Homo sapiens: one gene and its partners. The protein of the gene in region 4 interacts with the protein of the main gene of each other region in a pairwise test. Each region holds a gene or a part of one and is shown on either strand. Other genes may lie near its edges. The genes, in order: TASOR2, MLC1, STAM2, PRPS1, CRLF3, FEZ2 and KLHL20.

Region 1 (3,500 bases), on a different chromosome or scaffold from region 4:
ATTGCTCTATTTCACCAGCTGGCATTTCTTCTCTGGGACTTGTAGGTGGTGATATTGTTAGAGCTAAGTCAATGTCAGAATCTTCCTCTGATAACTCTAGGCTGACCTCTCTACTCACAGACAGGCTTGTTTGTTTGATAAATACTGAATCAAACGCTTCCAAATTCATATTTTCAGTGTTTGGACCATTCTTGTGATTCTTCCTTAGTTCTAAAGAGTCACCTGATGTGTGGCATCCTGACGAAATGCAGTTAAGTGAACACTGCCTTCCCAAGGTGGTAGAGGCTGATGATGAGTCCACTTCAACCTGTGTCAGTTCTAGAAGCCCTTCTGAAGATAGGCCGAGGAGACTCTGAGTCTGTGAAAGGAAATCCTGAGTGCATCTCACTTCTTCACTGGGTGATAGATGACTAGAACTTTTAGCTAATGATAGTGCCTCCATGACCATTGTTTTATCAGATGGTAGAGAGACTGGAAGGGGCGTCTCCTTCTGTAATGAACACACTGCTTTATCAAGTGTCTCTCCACCTACTGACGAGGCACAAAGGTACTTAGTGCCCTTCTGTCCTGCAACTACTAGAGAGGGAATGTCCCTCAGGCCTTGTGTTCGTGCATTTTCCGAGGTGGATACAGGATGTCTAAGGCTTGCAGCAGGTGATACTTGCTTAATCAACTCCTTCTTAAAGGTTGTACGTTCATCAGCAGTATTTACACCTTCTGTCTGTATTGGTACATGTGCATTTTTTTCAAAGGTGAGAGTAATTGGTTCCGGGTTAATCACTGCACACCCCATATTATCATCCTTTCTTTCCAAGGAAGGGTGACATTCATTGTTTATGGGGCTGCCATGTTGGATAAGGTCCTGTAAAGTACCTGTTTTTGTTTGCACTGCTGCATCAAGAATATCCACTTTGTTTTCAAGGGTGCCGTACACAGAGCTCTGACATATCACTGGCTGACTGCCAGGCCCATCGTAAGTCCTGGTGAATGTGGCTTGAGTAACAGTGCCACTGTAAGAAGCCACTCTTGTGCTATCCAGTGGCTGAACAATTTCTTCTTCACTAGGAACAGAAGGTCCATTAGTTTGTGTACTTCCAATACCCGAAAGCACAAGATTAGAAGTCTCCAATGATTCTTGTTTAGCTTCTTCCCCAGTTACCTGAAACGGCCAAAGTAAAAAAAAAAAAAAATCAGTCATATAAAATGTTTTTTATACGATTATATGTACATGTGAAGAACAGAAAAGATAAAAATTAATTTTAGTTTGTGAATGTTCTTCTGAATTTTCTAGCTAAAAGAATATCACAGGGTACAAATCAAGCAAGTCCCTCTTTTAAAGGCAGACTTAAAATACCCCCCAGTGGGATTTGTTTTCTTTAAAACCACACACAGAAGAGAGCTCCAAGCTTTTTGGAAGAAAAATAACTAGACCACTGACAATTTAAAAGACTTTAAATGCAGCCTGTTTGCTACTTAGCACCGCTTAATCCAGAAGTGTAGCACTAGAGAAAAAGCATTCAATTTTGTTTTTAATAAATGAGATTAATTTTTTTTTTTTCAAGACAGCGTCTTGCTTTATCGAACAGGCTGCAGTGCAGTGGAGTGATCTTGGCTCACTGCAACCTCTGCCTCCCGGGTTTAAGTGACTCTCTGCCTCAGCCTCCCGAGTAGCTGGGATTACAGGTACATGCCACCATGCCCGGCTAATTTTTGTATTTTTAGTAGAGATGAGGTTTAGCCACGTTGGCCAGGCTGGTCTCAAACTCCTGACCTCAAGTGATCCACCCACCTCGGCCTCCCAAAGTGCTGGGATTACAGGTGTGAGCCACTGTGCCCAGCCTAAAAGATAATTTTTAAAAAGCAAATAACATTTTTAACATCCGTTTTCAATTAGACCATAAGTACACCATCATCTGAAACTTTCCCATGAGGCAACAGAGTAAATTAATTACTACCCCCTGTACTCAGAATACATTGATTCTAGTCAACAAAGGCCCCTCATCCCTTAGCTATCTTCTTTGCATGAAACTGGAGATTCTTTCTCATTTGAATACCTATTGTACATGGCAATTGAAAACTTTATCAATGCAGTTTGCAATCATAAACTGAACTAAAGGCACTGATTTAAACAGTAGCAAGCAGGATTTAGGTTAAACATTAGCAGAGCTATCATCTCAGGACAGTTCTCATAACCTCATAAACAGGGTGGTATTTGTTTTTTGTTTTATTTAAAGCCTCAAGCATGGCCTTGTCGAGCATATAATAAAATGAACTGATTATACAACTGATCACACCCCTCTGCAATGCTGGGAACACCATGCTCACAAACTGCGTGCCATGTCTTGAAGCATACATGTTGGAAATCAGGAACTGTGTTCCAAATCTCTTGTTAAAAACATTTCTGTCTTAGGTAGGGCACGGCTTCTCACGCCTGTAATCTCAGAACTTTGGGAGGCTGTGGTGGGCGGATCACTATAGGCCAGAAGTTCGAGACCAGCCTGGCCAACATGGCGAAACCTAGTCTCTACTAAAAATACAAAAATTACCCAGGAGTGGTGGCATGCACCTGTAATCCCAGCTACTCGGGAGGCTGAGGCAGAGTCACTTGAACCCGGGAGGCGGAGGCTGCAGTCTCAAAAAAACCAAACCAAACAAACTCATTTCTGGCTGGAGCAGTGGCTCACGAGACTCTGTCTCAAACAAAACAAAACAAACAAACCAACCAACCATTTCTGGCTGGGGGCAGTGGCTCACGCCTGTAATCCCCAGCACTTTGGGAGGCTGAGGCAGGTGGATTGCCTAAGGTTAGGAGTTATAGACCAGCTTGGCCAACATGGTGAAACCCTGTCTCTACTAAAAATACAAAAATCAGCCAGGTGTGGTGGCAGGCGCCTATAATCCCAGCTACTAGGGAGGCTGAGGCAGGAGAATCAGTTGAACCAGGGAGGTGAAGCTTGCAGTGAGCCGAGATCGTGCCATTGTACTCCAGCCTGGGAGACAAGAGTGAGACTTCTCAAAACAAAACAAAACAAAACAAAACAAAAAAACAGAGTCAACAGTGTGGGGCTGAGACAACAGAGTTTTAAGAGAACAAAGTATTAGAAAAGTCTTGAGAGTCAGTGTCCTTCTGAGAACTTTAATGGCCCTCCCAATCATGTGGCTGGTAACGTTTAGCCTCAGTCCTAAATCTCACCATGACTGTAGTCTTAGTGAAATGCAAATAGTGACAATCTTGATATATTTCTATTTCGATATATTTTTACTACAGGTAAAGTGTAATGCTTCTAAAATAAAGTCTGACAATTCAGAAAGAGTGCTCAACTCAACACATGACTAGCAGCAACATGCTTTTGGTTTCTAGTGCCTATCATGCTAGAATCCTCTTCTTCACATTCCAGTGTGCCAACTGGTGGAGGGAGTGCGATAGCACACGTGTGCCTTTCAAGTACAGGCACAGCATTCAACAAGATGACAAAAAAACAAAAGCCTACGTAAGTACA
Region 2 (3,500 bases), on a different chromosome or scaffold from region 4:
TGGGCTCCGAGCAGGGGAGCCTGGGCAGCAGGGAGAAGACTGGGGAGCTGAGGGGCTGCCAGTGCAAAGGCCCCAAGCCAGCTGCTGAGGTGGGTGTGGCCCTGGCCAGGGAGGCTGAGGTGTCAATACAGGGGTCTCTCCTGGGCTTGGTGCTTCTGAAAGGGCCTTCTAGCTGTAAGCAGCAGTGAGGGCACAGGAAGGGATGGTGGCTTCAGGGTGGCCTATTCAGGGCCCCAGTGAGCCATGGGAGGGCGGGAGTTTCCCCGTTCACCCAGCATGGCCACTCCGGCCCCTGCCCTAGAGGGCCAGGAAGCTCAGCCATAGGGGCTGGGGCAGCTCAATCAAGGGCCCTGCCCTGGAAGGGTCCAGGCCTGCAGCCCAGCCCCCAACTCCAGCCCCGAGCACCTGCCTCCAGCCCATGGTGCAGGGCCTGGGCCCCTCTGCCGCACCCAGGCCAGACTCAGGCAGGTGGAGCTGGGTCCCTCACCACGCATGCCTCAGCGCTCTCCTCTCCTCCTGGGGTCTCCTGCCCTGAAGAGAGGGTTGGGAGTGTGGGTGGATTTAGGGGCGCCCAGGGGGCAGCACCTGATGGGCAGGGGGTGCTCTCCGGGAAGATGGAGAGAGCAGAGCCACCCCCGAGGCAGGAGGGGTCTGCGGGATGGGAGGGGCCTCTGTGATGAGGGCTGACTGCAGGGACAGGGAAGGGGGTAGGGCAAGTGCCTTTCATTCTCAACTTTTTGGAGGTATGTGGTCTCTGTCCTCCCTCAGCTTCGGGATGTAATCCCTGCGTTTCAGACCCCAGGGTCAGTTGTACACACCTGCAGGCGTCATTCTCTCTGTCACAGACCCGCTTGGGTGGGCACCCATGTGAGTTCTCTGTCTCAGTAGCTGGGCCTGGTCCTACCCCTTCCGGGGGTGTGGCTCTATCCCAGCTCGGTCCTGCCTGGGTCTCTTTCCCTCTCTGAGCGCCTCAGCAGCCCACTAGGTCGGGCACTGGTGCCCTGGGGGCATTGCTCTGTGCCTACTCGCCCCCACAGGGAGCTGAAACACAGCTGCTGCCAATGGGATGTGTCCACCTGGCAGGCGTGGGCCCCTTCTCGGCAGTCCACCCGGCCACACCGTTCCCGGGCAGGCGTGGGCCCCTTCTCCGCAGTCCACCCGGCCATACCATTCCCGGGCAGGCGTGGGCCCCTTCTCGGCAGTCCACCTGGCCATACTGCTCCCAGGCAGGCATGGGCCTCGGCAGCTTCAGGAAGAGCCCCACTGCTGCCCAGGAGGAGCCTGTAGCTGATGCTGGGTGCTCACCATTCCTGCTCATGTACATAAGAGAGCAGGGGCAAAATCTAAAAGTCCACACAGCATGAGACAAACCAGGGGCTGGCCGTCAACACCGGTGTGCAGGCCACTACGCGGCAAGGTGCTGAGAACCTCGTGGGGTCTGCGTCCGGAGGCAGGTGGGTGGTGGCTCTGGGTGGGCTACAGGCTGTGAGGGGATCTGGGGTGTGGAGGGGTTGCTCTAGACTCACTGTTCTGAGGGAACACACCTGTAATCCCAGCACTTTTGGGGGCCGAGGCAGGCAGATCACTTGAGGTCAGGAGTTCAAGACCAGCCTGGCCAACATGGCAAAACCCGGTCTCTACTAAAAATACAAAAAAATTAGCTGGGCATGGTGGTCCACGCCTGTAATCCCAGCTACTTGGGAGGCTGAGGTGGGCAAATTACTTGAACCCGGGGAGGGGCAGAGGTTGTAGTGAGGTGATATTGAGCCACTGCACTCCAGCCTGGGTGGCAGAGTGAGACTCCATCTCAAAAAAATAAATAAATAAAATAAATAAAACAATGCCCATGTATTGAGCATGTGGCATGTGTCAGGTGCTGTGTGACACATCTGCTGCAGTAACATTTAATGTAAAGTAATAACAGAAATATGCTGCATTGTATGAAACACATAGTGTAATATAAATGCATTATATATTAGAAAATTATATAGAATAATAAACATCTACAGCCTGACATTCATATGTTAAAAAGATTAGAATAATAAAAATAATTGGTATTTTTTTCAGGAAAAATAATATAAAATAATCACACAAACTAATATAAAAGCAGTTAATACTTTGACTCATTTAATCCTTAACTCCCCAGTTCTTCTGAAGTTGGGGGCCAGCGAGGACCCTCTGTGGTGACTCTCTGTCTGAATGCACCAAGACTGAGCTCGGGGCCCAGCCACGCAGGATCTGAGCAGTGTGGCCCAGAGCGGCGGCGGGCGGGCCAGAGGGGTTACTCACGGCCACTAGGATCCAAAAGAACGTCACTGAGAGGTGTGGGCCTGAAACTGAGTCATCCACGTTCAGGGCAATGATCCCCCCGAGGACGGCAGAGATGCCTGCGATTACCTCGACGACCTGGAGGGGACAGGACAGCATCGGCTCATAAGGAAGTGGAGACACCCCCAGATTCCCAGAATGCACTGTGCAGACATGGACCCCCAGGAGCAGGGTCCAGTGGGCTGGCCCCAGATCTAACCGTGGAGGAGCCCACCTGGATGGACCCCCAGCCTCACCTGGCCCAGACCCCCTCTGCCCTCAGCTGCGGCTTTTCACGTCCCTCCTGGAGTAAAATAGCCAAAGAGGTGTTTCCCCCACTGCTGCTTTTGTCCACAGAAACTGAGGGTATTGACCTGACAGTGGTGAGGGCAGAAAACCAAGACCCTCAGACTCCCTTCCCTGTCTCACAGTGTGGCAGGCGGCGGTGCTCAGACCCTGGACCCCATCGAAGGGACTCGGGAAAACAGGCCTGGGGCAGAAGTAGCTTCCCATAGGACACACCCACCCGTGCCATGTGGGTTTGCCATTGCCACGGCAACACTGGACGTCACCACCCCTTTCCGTGGCAATGATCCAACCACCTGGACGTTAGCACCCCTTTTCTAGAAATTTCTGCATAATCTGCCCCTTAATTAGCATATACTTAAAAGTGGGTATAAATAGGAGGCAGAGCTGTCTCTGAGCTGCTGCTCGAGGCACCTGCCGGTTGGAGAGCCCTGCTATACTGCCACTGCAAACAAAGCTGCTGTCTGTCACCTCCAGCTCGCCCTTGAATTCTTTCCTGGACAAAGCCAAGAACCCTGCTGGCCTAAGCCCTGGTTGTGGACTCATCTGCCCGGCACCATCAGGGCCGCAACCAGCACCGCCAGACTCAGGGAGGGGCCGCAACCAGCACCGCCAGACTCAGGGAGGGGCCGCAACCAGCACCGCCAGACTCAGGGAGGGGCCGCAACCAGCACCGCCAGACTCAGGGAGGGCTGGGGAAGAAACACACGCCCGAAAACCTGCTCCCGTGAAGGATCTCTGTGAGTCGCAAACACAGAGCTGTGGCCAGCAGGAAAGCCAGGCATAAGGAGTGGGCCAGCAAGGGCTTGGGGGCCGGAAGGGACCTGGGCAGCCAGGCCTTGCGTCCAGAAGGCACAAAACTCCAGATGCACAAATAAAGCTGAATT
Region 3 (3,500 bases), on a different chromosome or scaffold from region 4:
AATCATAAGGTTCCACATGTTGCTCTGCAAGCACTAACTGTGAGTACAAGGCATGTTATTATTTGACGCAAATTTTAAATGTGTTTTTAATTACAGTAAGTTAATATTTCAATATTCATATATTTTTATTTCAATTAATAGCTTCTTGGGGCTTGTGTGGCAAACTGTGGAAAGATATTTCATTTAGAAGTATGTTCCCGTGATTTTGCAACAGAAGTACGTGCTGTGATTAAAAATAAGGTAAATTTTAAAAACAGAAGAACTTTAAGTCATTAAAAAAATGTAGATTGTGTGTCATTATAACTATATGTGGCATTACTAAAGTATTATAAATGAAGTCATTTTTAGATCATTGAAATGAAATAAACTGTTCTGAAATTTGATTTTTTAATGTGTAGCACCAAAAACTATTCTCCCCAAAGTATATATACTGTAAATAATAGCAAATCCTTTTTGAGGGCTAGTAAGTAGTCATTACTTTAAGCATTTTACATATACTGTCTTGTTGAATGCTCTTAACTACCCTTGGAGCATTAGATTCTTGGAAGTTAGATTCCCTTATCATTCTTATTTTATAAATGCAAAAACTGAGACTTAGAAGTAACTTGTCCAAGGTCATGCAGCTGGTAACTGGAATAGCCATGATTTACATCCAGGTTTCTCTGGCTCCATTCTCCGAAACATGGAGGAAATAATCTCTGAATATAAAAGATCTGTTGTCATTATAGTAAGACTTAGGAATTGGTGTTAAAAACAGTCATTTTGTATGAAACAACTATATCACAACATGTAAATAGGCATCTATCAATTACTCAACTAGGCTAGAAATTTCAGGACTTTTGTTGATGTTCATATAATTAAAGAGAATTTTGATGGTAATTCTCCTTGTTAAATAATTTAAGTACTTATTTTAACCGTAGATTTTTGTTTATTTTCCTTTCCTTTTCCTTAAAAGGCACATCCTAAAGTATGTGAAAAACTGAAATCTTTAATGGTGGAGTGGTCAGAAGAATTTCAGAAGGACCCTCAGTTTAGTCTGATATCTGCAACTATTAAATCTATGAAAGAAGAAGGAATTACTTTTCCTCCAGCAGGTTCTCAGGTGAGAGATTTATTCAGACCCATGGTTGACCCTATAATATTTTGAAGGTATGTATGTTATGTAAAGACTAGGCAAGGTATGTCTAGATTATCATTTTCCACCTTTACTTCCCAAATGACTCTCTAGCATAGTGCCTTCCTTACGTTTAGTAGACATTCTAGTTTTTATGTGTATTTCTTCCACATATCAGAACCTTGTGAAGTTAATCAGACATAGTGTATTTAATGTTCCTCTAAGTCTACAGTCATGCAAAAGGCATAGGTATATGACATACCCCTTATATTCAAGAAATTTGTAGCAAATTTGAATGATAGCTTTATACATGTGAAAAATAACTAATTTAGATTGTAAGTGACAAATACAGGATGAGGGGAATAGACTGCATACTGTCTATCTTAATACCAAAGAGAGAAAGAGGTGACTACAGATTGGAATGGTGAAGAAGGTAAAGAGGTAGAATTTTGAGACTTGAATGTATTAATATTTTGTTAGAGAGAAGTGAAGAAGTCATATCAGGAGGTAAGTGAAATGAACAAATTCATGGAATTGAGAGGCTCAAGACTTGTTTGTTCAAGAGTGAATATGCCTAGAGTGAATGCTTCACATACAAGATGGATGGAAATGTAAGACTAGAAATTTATTTGCTGGGAGAAGGGATAGCTTTAGTAGAACTGGGGTGTGGAGGCAGGGATGTTGACTCATGGAGTGGGCTGGTTTTTTTAGGTCTAGGGGAGAAAAATACTATTCCTTGGGTTTTGCTCTCAGTACCTTATTCCTTCCCATTAATATTAAGATATGGGCTAGGGAAAGAGACGATGAGAAGTACTATATTTTCTTTTATTTTAAATCATAGATTAAAGAGAAAAAAAGATTTTTTTTTTTTTTTTTTTGAGATGGAGTTTTGCTCTTGTTGCCCAGGCTGGAGTGCAGTGGCACAACCTCAGCTCACTGCAATCTCTGTCTCCCGGGTTTAAGCAATTCTCCTGCCTCCGCCTTTAGAGTAGCTGGGATTGCAGGTGCCTACCACCATGCCCGGCTAATTTTTTGTATTTTTAGTAGAGACGGGGTTTCACCATGTTGACCAGGCTGGTCTCAAACTTCTGACCTCAGGTGATCCACCTGCCTCGACCTCTCAAAGTGCTGGGATTACAGGCATGAGCCACCACGCTGGCCGAAAAAAGATTCTTTATAGCTGACCAGACCTAAGGGTACAAGGTAACGTTTTGAGATAAGAGTCTTATAAGTAATAAAAAGGAAACATTTTCCTGTTCTGTCCTTTCTGCATATTTTTCTGAAAAATCTATGTAAAGAACCGGTTGATGGATCAGTCCTGGATACCTGTCTTACATGCTGTTTATTAAATTCAAGCATGACCTTCCTTACTTCTCTGCTATGTCTGGCAGACCACTGCCACCCAGCCACAATAACTAGTAAAAGGACTTCACACATATTCCTAGAACTGCACCTCTTGTCTCTGTCCCCATTCCTCTCTCTTCAGTGATGATCATGACTTCTTGCTGGCACTCCTCGTGTAGCTGTACTCCTATAGCAGAGCTCCTCTCACTAAGAGACCTTGGACAATTGAGATCGGGAATACAATCAGAAAAGAGTCTTTTTTAAATTCTATTAATATTTAAGTACTTTCTGTATGCCAAGTTCTGTGTTACATTTATGCAAAATCTAAGCCAGTTTGATCCCTGTGTGAGTTTATAATGTTTTCTTGAAAAATCTGATGTTTTATTTTAGTATTTGAAAACAATTATTTAAAATTATTATAAAGAACTTCACTTTTAGACCAGTGATGGTGGCTCATGCCTGTAATCTTAGCACTTTGGTAGGCTGAGACAGGAGAATCACTTGAGGCTAAGAGTTGCAGATCAGCCCAGGAAACATAGTGAGACCCTGTCTCTACAAAAAATAAAAATTAGCCGGTTGTGGATGCATACACCTCTAGTTCCGGCTTCCCAGGAGGCTGAGGCAAGAGGATCACTTGAGCCCAGGAGTTGGAGGTTACAGTGAGCTATGACTGTGCCATGCACTGCAACCTGGCTGACAGAATGAGACCCTGTCTCAAAAAAGAACTTCACTTTTAAATGAAACTCAGTTATATCAGTATTTTTTAAAATTTACCATCTGCAAGTAATTATGGAGCTTGTGTTTTGTTTGAAAAGATAGTTGTGTTCATTTTACTCATACATTTACAGACTGTCTCAGCTGCTGCCAAGAATGGTACGTCATCGAACAAAAACAAAGAGGATGAAGACATAGCTAAAGGTAAATGATCAAGCACATGTAATTTAGTGTTGCTTAAAATATCTTTGCCAGGGCTGGGCGCGGTGGCTCACGCCTGTAATCCCAGCACTTTGGGAGGCCGAAGTGGGCAGATCATGAGGTCAAG
Region 4 (3,500 bases):
ATTTCTATGTATTATAATTTAAGCCTTGGGTGATAAAAATCTCACAAAGTTACTTATCCCCTCAATTTGGTTCCAAAAGGAATCAGCAGGCTGAAGACATTCAGACAGCAATTGCTAGCTTTTTCCTTCTAACTACCAGCCCCATCAATCCACACTTACTTGTCAGCTGCATGGCAGATTGTGCCACAAGTGTCAGCCATGTCATCCACAAGGATGGCCACCCGATCCTTCACATCTCCCACAAGCACCATGCGGTCCACTTCATTGGCCTTCTTCCGTTCTTTGTGAATCAAGGCAAAGTCCACATTCAGCCTGTCTGCAATGGAGGTCACTCTGCAAAACAGAGCGTGTTCATATGTATGTGTGGCTTCTAAGACAAAAGAAATGGACTAAAGAGGCCGGGGGCGGTGGCTCACGCCTGTAATCCCAGCACTTTGGGAGGCTGAGGTGGGCGGATCACAAGGTCAGGAGATAGAGACCATCCTGGCTAACACAGTGAAACCCCATCTTTACTAAAAATACAAAAAATTAGCTGGGCATGGTGGCGGGCGCCTGTAGTCCCAGCTACTCGGGAGGCTGAGGCAGGAAAATGGCGTGAACCCAGGAGCTGGAGCTTGCAGTGAGCTGAGATCGCGCCACTGCACTCCAGCCTGGGTGACAGAGCGAGACTCTGTCTCAAAACAAAAAAAAAAGAAAAAAAGAAATGGACTAAAGAATGGGCTTGTTTTGGGGAGGAGAATACTCCTTGAAACCAATAGTTCCCAGGGCTGGAAGAATGAAAGCAACTATCATTGACTTCTCAAAGGCAAATATCACAAACTGGGTTTTATAAACCAGTGCCTCCATAGCTCAACAGAAGCTTATGAACGTACTGATCAAACTTAGATGAGTATTCATTCTGGGTAGAGGACAGACACCCTCACCAGTACTGGGAAGCAGTATAACGCTAAGACACGCAAGTTTATTTAATGGATTGGCAGCAGAAGGAATGAGGAAAGAATTAACTAATGCCAGGAGTACACAGACTGTCCCAATTCCCATCATGGAAGACCCGTGAATGGGGATGTGGTGAGAAGAGAACCTGACTGGCAGGAGAGGAGCAGCATCCAGCCTGTTCCAATGCCTGTGTCCTCATCACTTCCCTCAGTGCTGTTGGCAAAACATCCATCAACTGTCACTGTCAACTGTACCTGGACACCAAGCTTGGGAGTTTTTTTCACAATTGCTAGACAGAAAGTTATATCAATTACCCAGACAAGCTAGGCATCTCACCATTCGGTCCAAAGTATCTTCCAATCAAAGAGAATTCTTATTTTTCTTATTACAAGAGAAAATAAACCAGACTAGAAGGTAGGATAGAAGACAAATTTGTCTTTTGACAAAGTACCACATAATTCAAACAAAAATCTATTCAGTGTAAATGACAGTGAGCTGCCCCAGTGGCACGTCTGTCCATGCTCCGCTGTGCCATCTCCGTCATGTGTGAAGCAGCCCGTGCTTGGGGATTTGTCCTGTTTTTTAATGTAGAACTGAACAAACTATAGCATTTTGTCCTGTTTCTCTTGTGACTATGGTCACATGAGTTTTTGCTGGATAAGTGAGAACCTGTGACCACATAATAAGGTTTGAACCATAATCTAGGTAACATTTGTACCTTGATCTAAACCAACCATACCCTGTACTCTCCATTACTACTACTGCATAAGCACATAACATCAGTGGTAACCAATTCGCTTGGAATGATTACTTACCCAAGGCAAATGCATGATCAATTAGTTCAAGTATCCCAAACCAACCATACTCAAAGGCCAACAAATTCAGTGACCAACAAAGCATAAAAAGGGCTAGAAAAAGTAACTCTCTACACCTTTTGAGGAGAGAACTACTGTACAAATGAATATCACACAGGGATCTCTACCTACTCCCCAAACCCTGCCAACACAGAAGTGATAGACACTCAATTGTAAAATACTCCATCACTATAAGACAATGATAATGAAAAAAAAATCAGGTAGCAATAAGTTGTCTACTAAAGGCAGTTTTCCTATACCCACCTTTGGAAAGAAAATCCTGCCTATTTCAAATGTGACTATTTTCTAAGTCCCACAGAAAGATATTAAAATAATGACCGACAAATTAAATATGACAACTACTAGTTGGGGGGATGTTTCTTAGGCTGTCTCTAGCATTACAGATGGTAACTAGCAATTACATGGGACTCACCAACCCATATATCTGGCTGGATAACATAACTCAAGTTCTCAGCTTATCAGTTCTGTTGAAGTTACTGAAATAAAAGAGGTTGTTGAGAAACAGTCATTGAAGATTTGAATGGCTTTTAGAAAGTTCTGAATTAGCTCTTCCTAATCATCTGTGTTTTGTAGCTCTTCATTCTATTTCCACAACAAGAAGAACATGTGTCACACTTTTGAATGCATTACTAACGAGTAATCCACTAAGGAAATCAAGAGCTCTTAGTCTGCACCATGTGAGCTGCAAAGCACTGTTAACTGGCAATCCCTGGCAATCAGTTTGTTTAAAATGTTAAGATCTTGGCTTTAAATAAAAATGTCACACTTTACTTTCCTTCCTGCTTAATATTTTAATCCCAAGGATCAAAATGATCTAACCAACAGCATTGTAAGAGGAGTGTAAAAGCGAATTTGTCCACCAATATGTGGTTCAATAGCAGCTGCTATTCATTAGAAAACCACATTTTCTACCCTTCCCAAAAGGTTTATAGCTGTATTGCTAGCTCTGTAGCACCAAGTTACTCATAAGTTATAGTCAAATCCATAATATGATGATTTAGGACCCCTTTTCTGTCTTGTCTTCCGAGTAGTAACTGAGGACAGTAAAAGAGGAAAGGGTAAAACTATATTCAACCCATGTGCTAGCTACTTACATCCATTCAAAAATACTTAAAAACTGCCACTTGGATAGAAAAACTTCACTTTGTGACACAACCATCTGAAAGATTTTCCCAGTACATTGGGAACAATACTAATTTCAACCATACCTCTTAGCTCCACCAGCATCAGGTGAGACAATAGTGCAGTTCCTCCACTCAGAGATATTCTCCCTTATCCACTTTAGGACAGCCGGCTCTGCATACAAATTGTCTACTGGGATATCAAAAAAGCCCTGTAGAAAGAAGCTGGATCAGTTTTGCTTCACTTTCCTTCTCTTCCATTTATAAATGGCAAACACAAAGTAGTAACTTGCTCAGAGAATGTCTTACTGCAACATTCAAACTGATGGGAAGGCAGGCCCAGTGTGGTAGATTATAAAAGCCTCCTTGAATCTGGGCTATGTGAGAGAGCCCAGCCAAGATCAGCAAAGCCAGCCCTCAGTCAACCCACAACTGAACATAGGAACATAAGTGAGCCCTTGTAAAGAATGGCTAAGTTCAGACAAAACCATTAAGAACTGCCCAGTCAACATGCAGACTCAGTGAGTTTGTAAATACTGCTTTATGCCACTAAGTGTTGGACTGATTT
Region 5 (3,500 bases), on a different chromosome or scaffold from region 4:
GAGGTTGCAGTGAGCCAAGATTGAGCCATTGCACTCCAGCCTGGGCGACAAGAGCGAAACTTCATTAAAAAAAAAAAATTATTTCATCTGTTCTTGGTTTTCCCTGTATCTGGATTTAACCTTTTCTTAGAATACTATAATAGGGACACTTTAAATACTACTACTGTAACAAATTATACACAGATTTTTGTAGTGTTTTCAAAATGGGTAACAGAAGGGGAAGTGGGAGATAAAAGGAGCAATAATGGCTTTCTTTTCTTTTCCTTTTTTTTTTTTTTTTGAGACAGTTTCACTCCTGTTGCCCAGGCTGGAGTGCAGTGGCATGATCTCGGCTCACCGCAACCTCCGTCTCCTGGGTTCAAGCAATTCTCTTGCCTCAGCCTCCCGAGTAGCTAAGATTACAGGCGCCCACCACCACACCCGGCTAATTTTTGTATTTTTAGTAAAGATAGGTTTTCATCGTATGGGTCAGGCTTGTCTCAAACTCCTGACCTCAGGTGATCCGCCCGCCTCAGCCTCCCAAAATGCTGGGATTACAGGTGTGAGCCACCACGCCTGGCCAACAGCTTTCTTTTCTTTGCTAAGCTACTGAGACTTCCTGTCTTGGTTTTTTGAAATAACTTTTGAGTGTTTTTTTTTTTTTGAGACAGTCTTCTTCTGTTGCTGAGGCTGGAGTGCAGTGGTGCCATCTTGGCTCACTGCAACCTCCATCTCCCAGGTATAAGCAATTCTCCTGCCTCAGCCTCCAGAGTAGCTGGAATTACAGGTGCATTCCACCACACCTGGCTAATTTTTTTTACATTTTTAGTAGAGACAGAGTTTTGCCATGTTGAAGGCTGGTCTCAAACTCCTGATCTCATGTGATCCACCCGCCTCGGCCTCCCAAAGTGCTGGGATTACAGGCGTGAGCCACTGAGCCCAGCCACCAACTAGTATCTTAATTAGGTACCAGGATCTTACCATTTGCTCTTGAAGGAGCAGAGACTTGCTTTTGTCAGTGTCCTGAGAAATACTGAATCAGAATACCAAAAGGTACATGAAAGCCAACATAGTCATTTTATAGAGTGAACTACAACACACAGACTAAAATACTGGCATTTCTCACTGTAGACACCTCCAGTACCTCAACTAATTCCCCTTTGATAATGTACCAAGATGAAGTTTTTGGACTTACAAAGATTAAAGACCAGGCCCTGACTTTGGCATTGTCATCAAGGTGGTGCCACTCTGTGAGGCCTGAGTGGCCAGCTGACATCACTACGTGACATTTTGATCAGTTATCTCTACTTACGTTTTTGTTTTTGAGATGGAGTCTCGCTCTGTCGCCCAGGCTGGAGTGCAGTGGTGTGATCTTGGCTCACTGCAACCTCCGCCTGCCCGGCTCAAGCAATTCTCCTGGCTCAGCCTCCTGAGTAGCTGGGACTACAGGTGCACGCTACCACACCTGGCTAATTTGTATTTTTTTAGTAGAGACGGGGTTTCACCATATTGGCCAGGCTGGATCTCTACTTATAACAAACAGAAAGGCCAATGCTGTAGAAATAGGACAAGTGATGAAAGATATAATAGAAGTGAAATATAAAAATGAATACACAAATAGAACTTATATTTTTCTTACTTGTTTTGTTTTTAGGGGTAGTAACCTAAGTATCAGCCACCAAAGGAAAGAGGAAAGCATAAATCCATGAGGGCAGTGATCTATTTCCTTGAACACAGAATCTAGGACCTAGAAGTTTCTCAGCCCTACAGTAGGCACCCAATAAATATTTATTGAGTGAATGAACAAATGAATATTTAAGGACAGTGGGAGTTAATTTCTTTGGTATTTACATCTTAGTACCAAGGATTCCAGTGAGCTATAGAGAACTATTCTTAATGATTTCAACATCAGCTAGGCCAAGTTGGCTGTAAACATTATCTGATTTCCTGAAGACAATGAACAGCTTTCTAGCCTTTAACTTATTCAAACATTAAGAGTTAACAGACAATCCTTGCATTCCTACACAGAACTTCCTTTTCTCTGAAAACAGAGGGTAGAGCCCAAACTTAACCACAAGAGGAGAAACTGCTACATGTTGGCAGTTTTGACAGAATAACTTAAAAACATTTTTATTCTTCTTCCTTCTAAATGTTCATACAACATGATTTCTCAATACGAGACAAATTTCATGCTAGAGTTTAAAGGATAAGAAACTAAAGCAAAGACAAAAGGTAGGCCAGATGCAGTGGCTCACACCTGTAATACCAGTACTTTGGGAGGCCGAGGCAAGAGGATTGCTTGAGCTCAGGAGTTAGAAATCGGCCTGGCAGCTGGGCACGGTGGCTCACCCAGGCACGGTGGTAATCCCAGCATTTTGGGAGGCTGAGGTGGGCAGGATCACCTGAGGTGAGGACTTCGAGGCCAGCCTGGCCAACATGGTGAAACCCTGTCTCTAGTAAAAATACAAAAAGTAGATGGGCATGGTGGCAGACGCCTGTAATCCTGGCTATTCGGGAGGCTGAGGCAGGAGAATCTCTTGAACCCAAGAGGCGGAGGTTGCAGTGAGCCTAAGGTTGCAGTGAGCTGAAGGTTGCAATGAGCCAAGATTGTGCCACTTCACTCCAGCCTGGGCAAAAGAGCGAGACTCTCTCAAAAAAAAAAAAAAAAAAAAAGGAAGAAACTGTCTGGGAAACACAGGAAGACATCATCTCTACTAAAAAAAATTAAACAAAATTAGGCAGGTGTGGTGGTGTGTACCTATAGCCCCAGCTACTTGGGGATCTGAGACAGGAGGATGGCTTGAGCCTAGGAAGTCGAGGCTGCAGTGAGTTCTGATCATGCCACTGCACTCCAGCTTGGGTGACAGAGCAAGACTCTGGCTCAAAAAAAAAAAAGAGGCTGGGTGCGGTGGCTCAAGCCTGTAATCCTAACACTTTGGGAGGCCAAAGTGGGTGTTCATCTGAGCCCAGGAGGCTGGACAACATGGCAAAACCCCATCTCTACCAAAAATACAAAAAATTAGCCAGGGGTGATGGCACGTGCCTGTAGTCCCAGCTACTCGGCACACTGAGATGGGAGGATCACTTGAGCCTGAGAGGCAGAGCTTGCAGTGAGCTGAGATTGTGCCACTGCACTCCAGCCTGGGTGACAGAGTGAGGTCCTTTCTCAAAAAAAAAAAAAAAGAAAAAAGGAAAAAAAGTATGCCAAGAGTTTCTGAAAAGGTTAAACAAAAAGTTACCATGTGATCCACCAATTCCTAGCTATATTCTAAAACAACTGAAAACATGTCCACACAAAAAGTTGTCTACAAATTCTTTACAGAAGCATTATTCATAATAGTCAAAAGTGGAAATAATCCAAATGTCCATTAATTGATGAATGGATAAATAAAATGTGGTATATCCACATAACAATTATTCAGCCATAAAAAGGTTTGAAGTACTGTTACATGCTACCACATCAATGAACCTTGAAACATTATTCTAAGTCAAAGAAGTCAGTCACAAGGGGCTACATACTG
Region 6 (3,500 bases), on a different chromosome or scaffold from region 4:
CTGGGTGTGTTTTATTGTGAACTCCCTCTCTTTCTCCTTTTTGTTGTATCTGCCTTAGTGCTTAGCTTCTTTATTACAAATTAGATATTAAATCCTGTTCTCACATTGAGAGCGAATTCTTTCTCCAGAAAGGATAACAAACCTTTTGTTTGAGAGAGATTTTTCACTTTTTGAAATGGTCTGTTTGTTTGAAGTTACAGAAGAAAAATAAGTGTAATGCACAGTTGTATTTATTATTCATGTGACCCTGGAAACATTTCTTCCCCGCCCTGTGTTTCAGTTTCTTCATCTGTAAAATGAGGTTAATAATGGTTCCCCCTTCTAATGTTGTTTTTGAAGATTACATGAGTTAATACATGTAAATTGCTTAGAACAGTGCCTAGCACCTAATATAATGGAAGTGTTGCCTACTGCCTATTGGCAGTTTTCTGTACGGCTTCACCTTCCCTTAGGACTTCTTGTCAGCCCAGTTATGTGATTTTTCACCTCGTTTTTGTTTAGGAGACTCTACTTTGTTGATGTTTTTCTGAGAAACAATGTGCTGTCTGTTTTTCTCTGTTTCCTTTGACATTTGCTGTTCATCTTTCACTGAATATTTGTTTAAGAAAGACATACAGAATGTTAATTTTCATTGATTGTAGCTTTCTTCTTTTTAAGGATTTGGAATGCCCTGACAGATAATTATGGGAATGTGATGCCTGTAGACTGGAAGTCATCGCATACTAGGACCTTGCACTTGCTTACTCTGAACCTCTCAGAAAAAGGGGTAAGTTAGGAATTGAACCAATAGTGTTTGAATAACTGATGCTGATAATAGAACTAAAACAGTAGCATTTCTGCTTAACACAGATTCACTGACCTGCCTCTCATTTCTGAAATTATAGCAGTTTGGGTGGCTCTGTCTTGATGTCTTGGCTGTAGGGCCATCACCTTGCTGGCACATTCCTCCAGTTCTTCTCCAGCACACTCATTTTTTATGTGTAGCTAAATTTCCATCACAATTTTTTTTTTTTTGACGGAGTCTCACTCTGTTGCCCAGGCTGGAGTACAGTGGCTTACTACAACCTCTGCCTCCTGGGTTCAAGCGATTCTCCCACCTCAAACTCCCGAGTAGCTGGGATTACAGGCATGAGCCACCAGTCCCGGCTAATTTTTGTATTTTCAGTAGAGACAGGGTTTCGCTGTGTTGGCCAGGCTGGTCTCGAACTCCTGACCTCAGGTAATTCACCTCCCAGAGTGCTGGGATTACAGGTGTGAGCCACTGCACCTGGCAGTGATGATGCACTGAAACACTCAGTAAAATTTGGTGCACTGAAACCCTCAGTAAAAATGCTAGCCTTTGGTTTAATATACTGAGAGTATTGGAATCTCAACACGGAGTTAACTTTTTAATGAGTGTAGTGACCTGCTAGACATGATATGTTGTCAGGAGACTGTGTATTCCTGTGAATACTGGAGAACCTTTAAAAGATATTTTAGTTCTTGGCTTTTAAAATACGGTCTTGGCTAACTTACCTTTCTTGGGGTCTCCTGTGTACATCCTGGTATTGTAAAGTGAAGATGTCTTGACTAAGAAGTGTGAGCACGAGTGGTGGGACAGGTAGGGAGGCAGAAAAGGGTTGAGAATTACTTGAAATGGAAAATCACAGTGTTAAGCTTTTTTAAATCTGATGAGAAACATATCCAAATTATCTAAGTTTCAGGGCCTGGCTGTTTAAGTTCCTTATCAAATAATAATGTAAACTCATGCCAGATCTTCTTGCGTGCTCTATATTTCATTAAGTGTAATTATGTGATTATTGAGAATATAGTGCAGTAGGCCTGTCACTATTTTACATAGTATTGTTAATGTTTTGTTAAAAGGATTTTCTTACATATGTGATCAGAAAAGCCTACTGTTATTATTTTCTAGTAAAATGTAGAATTCTGGCTGTATTTCCCAGTATTCAGTAGCTATGGAAATCTTCCTGACTGTGCCAGTCATTAATCCCATTAAGCTTTGCAGACTGACCTGGCATATATTTAATGAAAAGGAATAAAATGAGGGATCTTTTGCTCTGTCTTGTTTACTTAGGTCCTGGCTATCATTTTGGGCTTAGTTCAAGTTTCCCTTCCTCTCTGAAGCTTCCTATTACTGTTTTAGCCTTTGCTGATCTCATGGAATTATACAATTTTAGAGTTGGAAGGGGCTTTAAAGGACACTTAATCCAGCCTCTCACTTGGGGGGAATCCTCACCTCCAGCATCTCTGACAGATGGTCATTTAGCCATGGCCTAAATTCCTGCACGGAAGGAAAACACACTCCCCTCTAGGGGAACTGATGGCACTTGTGGGGTTGTGAACTTTGAAAGGACTTGTTATCTGTGCCACGGGGTTTAGCCTTGCTGTCTCATGGGTGCTAGTCCCCAGATCACTTTGTCCCTGTCTCTAAAATTACCACTGCCTTCTCTTGTTAATCATATGTTTCTGGGTCTGTCACTAGATTGTGACTTCCCGGCAGGTATTTGTATTTGTCTTTATAGTAACTATACTGTTCCTGGCACATAGTAAGTTTGAAGATACCTTTTTATTGAGTGAATAAGTGAATAGCCTTGTCAGTGAAACTGTAGGGCCAGAGATCGTGATAGAAAGGTTTTAAAAAAATATTTTCTATGTTATTTAAAATAATGCAGAATGCACCAAAACCAGTCCATGGGTACTACTTTTTTGACATATTAAAAAATAGCATAGAAGAGTTTCCATTCATAGTTTCAAAGTCAGGCCCATTAGCAGCGTGAGTGAGACAGTTTAATCCAATTTCATTGACTAAATGTACAGCGGGCCCACCATATTCTCTGGTTTCACATCTGCTGCTTTAGCCAACTGTGGATTAAAAAACTTGAAAAAAAAACCCCACAATAAAATAACAACACAACAATTGAAAATAATGAAAATAAAAAACCGAAAACCGATACAATATAACTTTATAATATAAATATTGTATAGTTATATACAATATAACTATAAACCATTTACCTTGTATTAGGTATTATAAGTAATTTACATATAATTTAAAGCTTATAGGGGGATGTGCACAGGTTATATGCAAATACTACCCCACTTTATATAAGGGACTTGAGCATCTGCAGATTTTGCTATTGGGGTGTCCTGGAACAAATTTCCCTTGGATACCGAGGGACTGCTGTATGTCTTGTATTGTTCTTAGATTGCATCTTGGGAGGTTGCTCCCTTTTGCTGCCTTTTGAATGTTATTTTCAATGCCACGGTAATGATATGGCCAAGGCAGTGATTAGTAATGACGTAGAGTTTAATGCTAGTACTGACATTAAAAAGCCTTACCTGGCTGGGCGCGGTGGCTCATGCCTGTAATCCCAGCACTTTGGGAGGCTGAGGTGGATGGATCACCTAAGGTCAGGAGTTTGAGACCAGCCTTACCAACACGGTGAAACCCCGTCTCTACTAAAAATACAAAATTAGCCAGGCGTGGTGGCGCATGCCTG
Region 7 (3,500 bases), on a different chromosome or scaffold from region 4:
GAATGAGCATAACAAAGTGAACTTATATCATCACTTTTCTAGCTGAAATTAACGGGGATGGTCTAAGAAATTTTCAGAATTACCTTTAAGTACTTATAAAATACCTAAAATACTTTTATTATGTTTAAAAAGTCATTCCAGATAATATATAAGATACAAATTTGTATCTTTTCTTTGCGACAGGGTCTTGCTCTGTCACCCAGGCTGGAATACAGCGGTTTGATCACGGCTTACTACAGCCTCGACCTCCTAGGCTCAACTGATCCTCCCACCTCAGCCCCCTAAGTAGCTGGGACTACAGGTGTGAGTCACCATGCCTGGCTTGAAAATTTGTATCTTATATTCATATTTCATATGTAGAAATTCAGGTGCTAAATTACTAGGTAAAAGTCACAAATTACTGACAAATAATTAGAAATAAGATATTTGGATTTTTGTATGATCACATTATATAAACATGCAGAGAAAAGACAATCTATGCCTCTTAATTAAAATAATTATTCTTTTAACAAATATTTACTAATTGCTTTTAATGTACACAAAGCATTTTGCTATAGACTGTGGAAAATTCTAAGTAATATAAAGAAGCAATCTCTAGAGGAGGAGATACATGAATAACTAGTAAGAGGGCAACCAGGACAAAAGATGTGGTTCAAACATAAGAATTTTCGGAGGAGGCTGAGCCTAGTGGCTCATGCCTGTAATCCCAGTACTTTGGGAGGTTGAGGCGGGGGGATCCCTTAAGCCCAGGAGTTTGCCATGCCTAGGCAACATAGTGAGGCCCCATCTCTAAAAAAAAAAAAAAAAATCCCCAAAACATATATATCATGTATGTGTATGTGTATATATATATAAAAGAATTTTTGGAGGTGATACATATGTTTAGAACCTTGATTGCGGTGATATCATGGGTATATACATATGCCCAAACTCATCAAAATGTATACATAAAATATGTACCTCAATTATACCTCAATAAAGCTTAAAAGTCATTCAGAAAGGCAAAATCTATGAAGTATATGTTTAACATCATTCAGAAAGATTCTGGATCTCACAGGTATAGCCTATCAGGTTACTACAAAGGTTGTTGTTGTAAAGTAGGAATATTACACTGGGTTTTCCCAGAGCTTAAGTGAAATATCTCACATCCATGCTCCAGATCGTTATATTTCTGTTTCTGATTCTAAACTCATTAAGCAGTCCTCTGATGGAAAATTCTTCCAAAAGTACCATGCTACTTAAAAGGGGGATGACTCAAGCATTCTGATCACTGAGTTTTAGGTCAGCCTCATGTGAGTCTCTCTCAGATGCTAATTATCTACAACTACTGAGAGAGTCTAATATCTAGCCTGCAAAGGACAGCATCCCTATCAGTCTGCTACTTCCAAAGCTGTAGCACTGACGGGAACTACAGTATAATAAAACACTAAAGTGTAAAAGGAGTCTCCTGAGAAGGACAGAAAAATCTATAAGGACATTCTAGGGAGAAGAAATTGCATGTGCATTGCAAAGATATAGCACAAAAATAAAAAACATGGTTCTTCTTTTCTCCAACAACAACCAATTTTTCCAAAACACTTATACATCTGGTAAAAACATCACTGTTTACGCTTGGCAATTTTAAAGACTAAAACATAAAGCTGAGCAGTTAAAGAATAATTTTTACCATCCATATAAACAATCAAGAATGCTTTTAACCACAGAGCTAAAATGGTGCCTTGTACACAGTAGATGCTGAAAGAATAAATCACATGATTAACAGTGGTACAATCAAGCTTCTTTTTTAAAAAAGTAACAATTAAAGACAGAAGACCAAAAATTCCTGGAATACTGACACTGCATGCTGAAAGTAAAGTGTTATTGTCACAACCTTAGTTACATACATAAAGATGCTACTGTTGAACTGAGATATAAACAATTTTTTATTTCACCTAAGTACAATGTGGGTAAACTAAGCTAATGTCTCCGTTTTTCTTTTAAACATACCATAGTGCCAGGCGCGGTGGCTCACACCTGTAATCCCAGCACTTTGGGAGGCAGAGGTGGCTGGATCACCTGAGGTCAGAAGTTTGAGACCAGCCTGGCCAACATGGTGAGGCTCCATCTCTACTAAAAATACAAAAATTAGCTGGATGTGGTGGCGCATGCCTGTAATCCCAGCTACTTGGGAGGCTGAGGCAGGAGAATTGCTTGAACCTGGGAGGCAGAGGTTGCGGTGAACCAAGATTGTGCCACTGCACTACTCCAGCCTGGGAAACAAAAGCGAAACTCTATGTCAAAAAAAAAAAAAAAATTACCATAGCAAAAAAAAATAATGCTCTTATTACTGCATCAGTATAGTAGAATCTTTTTTTCTTTTTTTTAGAAATAAGGTATTGCTCTGTCACTGAGGATGAAGTGCAGTGGTATGATCACAGCTCACTGCAGCCTCAAACTCCTGGTTGAAGCGATCCTCTCACCTCAGCCTCCTGAGGAGGCTCTCAGGTGCATGCTACCACGCCTGGCTTAATTTTAATTTTTTGGTAGAGACAAAGACTCTCTCTGTTTCCCAGGCTGGTCTAGAACTCCTGGCCTCAAGTGATCCTCCTGCCTCAGCCTCCCAAAGTGCTGGGATCACAAGTGTAGGCCACTGTGCCCCCAGCCATTGGTGTCCATCCATATAATTTTCACTTCAGGAAATATCATTCATCTTTTGCCTTTTTTCCTCAACCATTTAAGAATGTAAAAGCTAGCTGGGCATGGTGGCTCACAGCTGTAATCCCAGCACTTTGGCAGGTTGAGGCAGGAGGATCGTTTGAGCTCAGGAGTTTGAGACCAGCTTGGGCAACAAAATGAGATTCCATCTCTACGAAAAAATTTAAAAATTATCCAGGTGTGGTGACATGTGTGACAAGTGCTTCTTGAAAAGCTTGCAGAACCACAAGCCAAGATAAACTTCTTTTCTTTATAAATTACCAAGTCTCAGGTACTTCTTTATTGCAATGCAAAATGGACTAATACGCTATCTAAATGAACATTTCACCTTTCCTACTTCAAAAATTTTGTTTTACTTTGAAAATTAACAACTTGACCTTAAAAAAGATTCAGTTGCACTGACCCTCATTTATAGTCCTAAATATACTTGAATAGAGACAGCTGGAGATTTGAGTGTATAAACCCTCAAAACAGAAATAACATCTCAAAGTGTCACTTCTACTTAGTAGAAGGGGTCCCAATAGGCACTATATTCCACACCTGATTCCACACCAGAAGGCCAAGCTATTAACCTCTTTATTTGAAACTTGGTTGTGAATGTTTTAGTCCCAAGACATCTCATCACGGCTTATTGGATAAAATGAGCATAAGCCTTGGGTGCCTTGGTCCAGTGATCGAGACCAAGATGGAGCAGGAAGGGTAAATCCTCATGCAAGCATGCTAGTTTCCCTTTATATCAGGATAGCAAAAGCCTTCCTAGAATACCCCTCAACAACTACTGCTGACATCTCATTGGTAGCACTGTG

Evidence for each region.
Region 1: the proteins of PRPS1 (region 4) and TASOR2 interact in binary tests that used the Homo sapiens proteins (3 or more experiments, as listed by UniProt).
Region 2: the proteins of PRPS1 (region 4) and MLC1 interact in binary tests that used the Homo sapiens proteins (3 or more experiments, as listed by UniProt).
Region 3: the proteins of PRPS1 (region 4) and STAM2 interact in binary tests that used the Homo sapiens proteins (3 or more experiments, as listed by UniProt).
Region 5: the proteins of PRPS1 (region 4) and CRLF3 interact in binary tests that used the Homo sapiens proteins (3 or more experiments, as listed by UniProt).
Region 6: the proteins of PRPS1 (region 4) and FEZ2 interact in binary tests that used the Homo sapiens proteins (3 or more experiments, as listed by UniProt).
Region 7: the proteins of PRPS1 (region 4) and KLHL20 interact in binary tests that used the Homo sapiens proteins (3 or more experiments, as listed by UniProt).

What each region holds. Positions count from the first base shown.
Region 1 is NC_000010.11:5,743,838-5,747,337, reverse strand, and holds part of TASOR2 (protein TASOR 2), read right to left. Parts: intron 1,160-3,500; coding exon 1-1,159.
Region 2 is NC_000022.11:50,071,927-50,075,426, forward strand, and holds part of MLC1 (membrane protein MLC1), read right to left. Parts: intron 2,407-3,500; coding exon 2,290-2,406; intron 1-2,289. UniProt on the Homo sapiens protein: Transmembrane protein mainly expressed in brain astrocytes that may play a role in transport across the blood-brain and brain-cerebrospinal fluid barriers. Regulates the response of astrocytes to hypo-osmosis by promoting calcium influx.
Region 3 is NC_000002.12:152,144,764-152,148,263, reverse strand, and holds part of STAM2 (signal transducing adapter molecule 2), read left to right. Parts: coding exon 1-39; intron 40-141; coding exon 142-240; intron 241-955; coding exon 956-1,102; intron 1,103-3,306; coding exon 3,307-3,376; intron 3,377-3,500.
Region 4 is NC_000023.11:107,642,010-107,645,509, reverse strand, and holds part of PRPS1 (ribose-phosphate pyrophosphokinase 1), read right to left. Parts: intron 3,145-3,500; coding exon 3,020-3,144; intron 334-3,019; coding exon 160-333; intron 1-159. UniProt on the Homo sapiens protein: Catalyzes the synthesis of phosphoribosylpyrophosphate (PRPP) that is essential for nucleotide synthesis.
Region 5 is NC_000017.11:30,818,193-30,821,692, forward strand, and holds part of CRLF3 (cytokine receptor-like factor 3), read right to left. Parts: intron 1-3,500. UniProt on the Homo sapiens protein: May play a role in the negative regulation of cell cycle progression.
Region 6 is NC_000002.12:36,588,169-36,591,668, reverse strand, and holds part of FEZ2 (fasciculation and elongation protein zeta-2), read left to right. Parts: intron 1-657; coding exon 658-766; intron 767-3,500. UniProt on the Homo sapiens protein: Involved in axonal outgrowth and fasciculation.
Region 7 is NC_000001.11:173,721,481-173,724,980, reverse strand, and holds part of KLHL20 (kelch-like protein 20), read right to left. Parts: intron 1-3,500. UniProt on the Homo sapiens protein: Substrate-specific adapter of a BCR (BTB-CUL3-RBX1) E3 ubiquitin-protein ligase complex involved in interferon response and anterograde Golgi to endosome transport.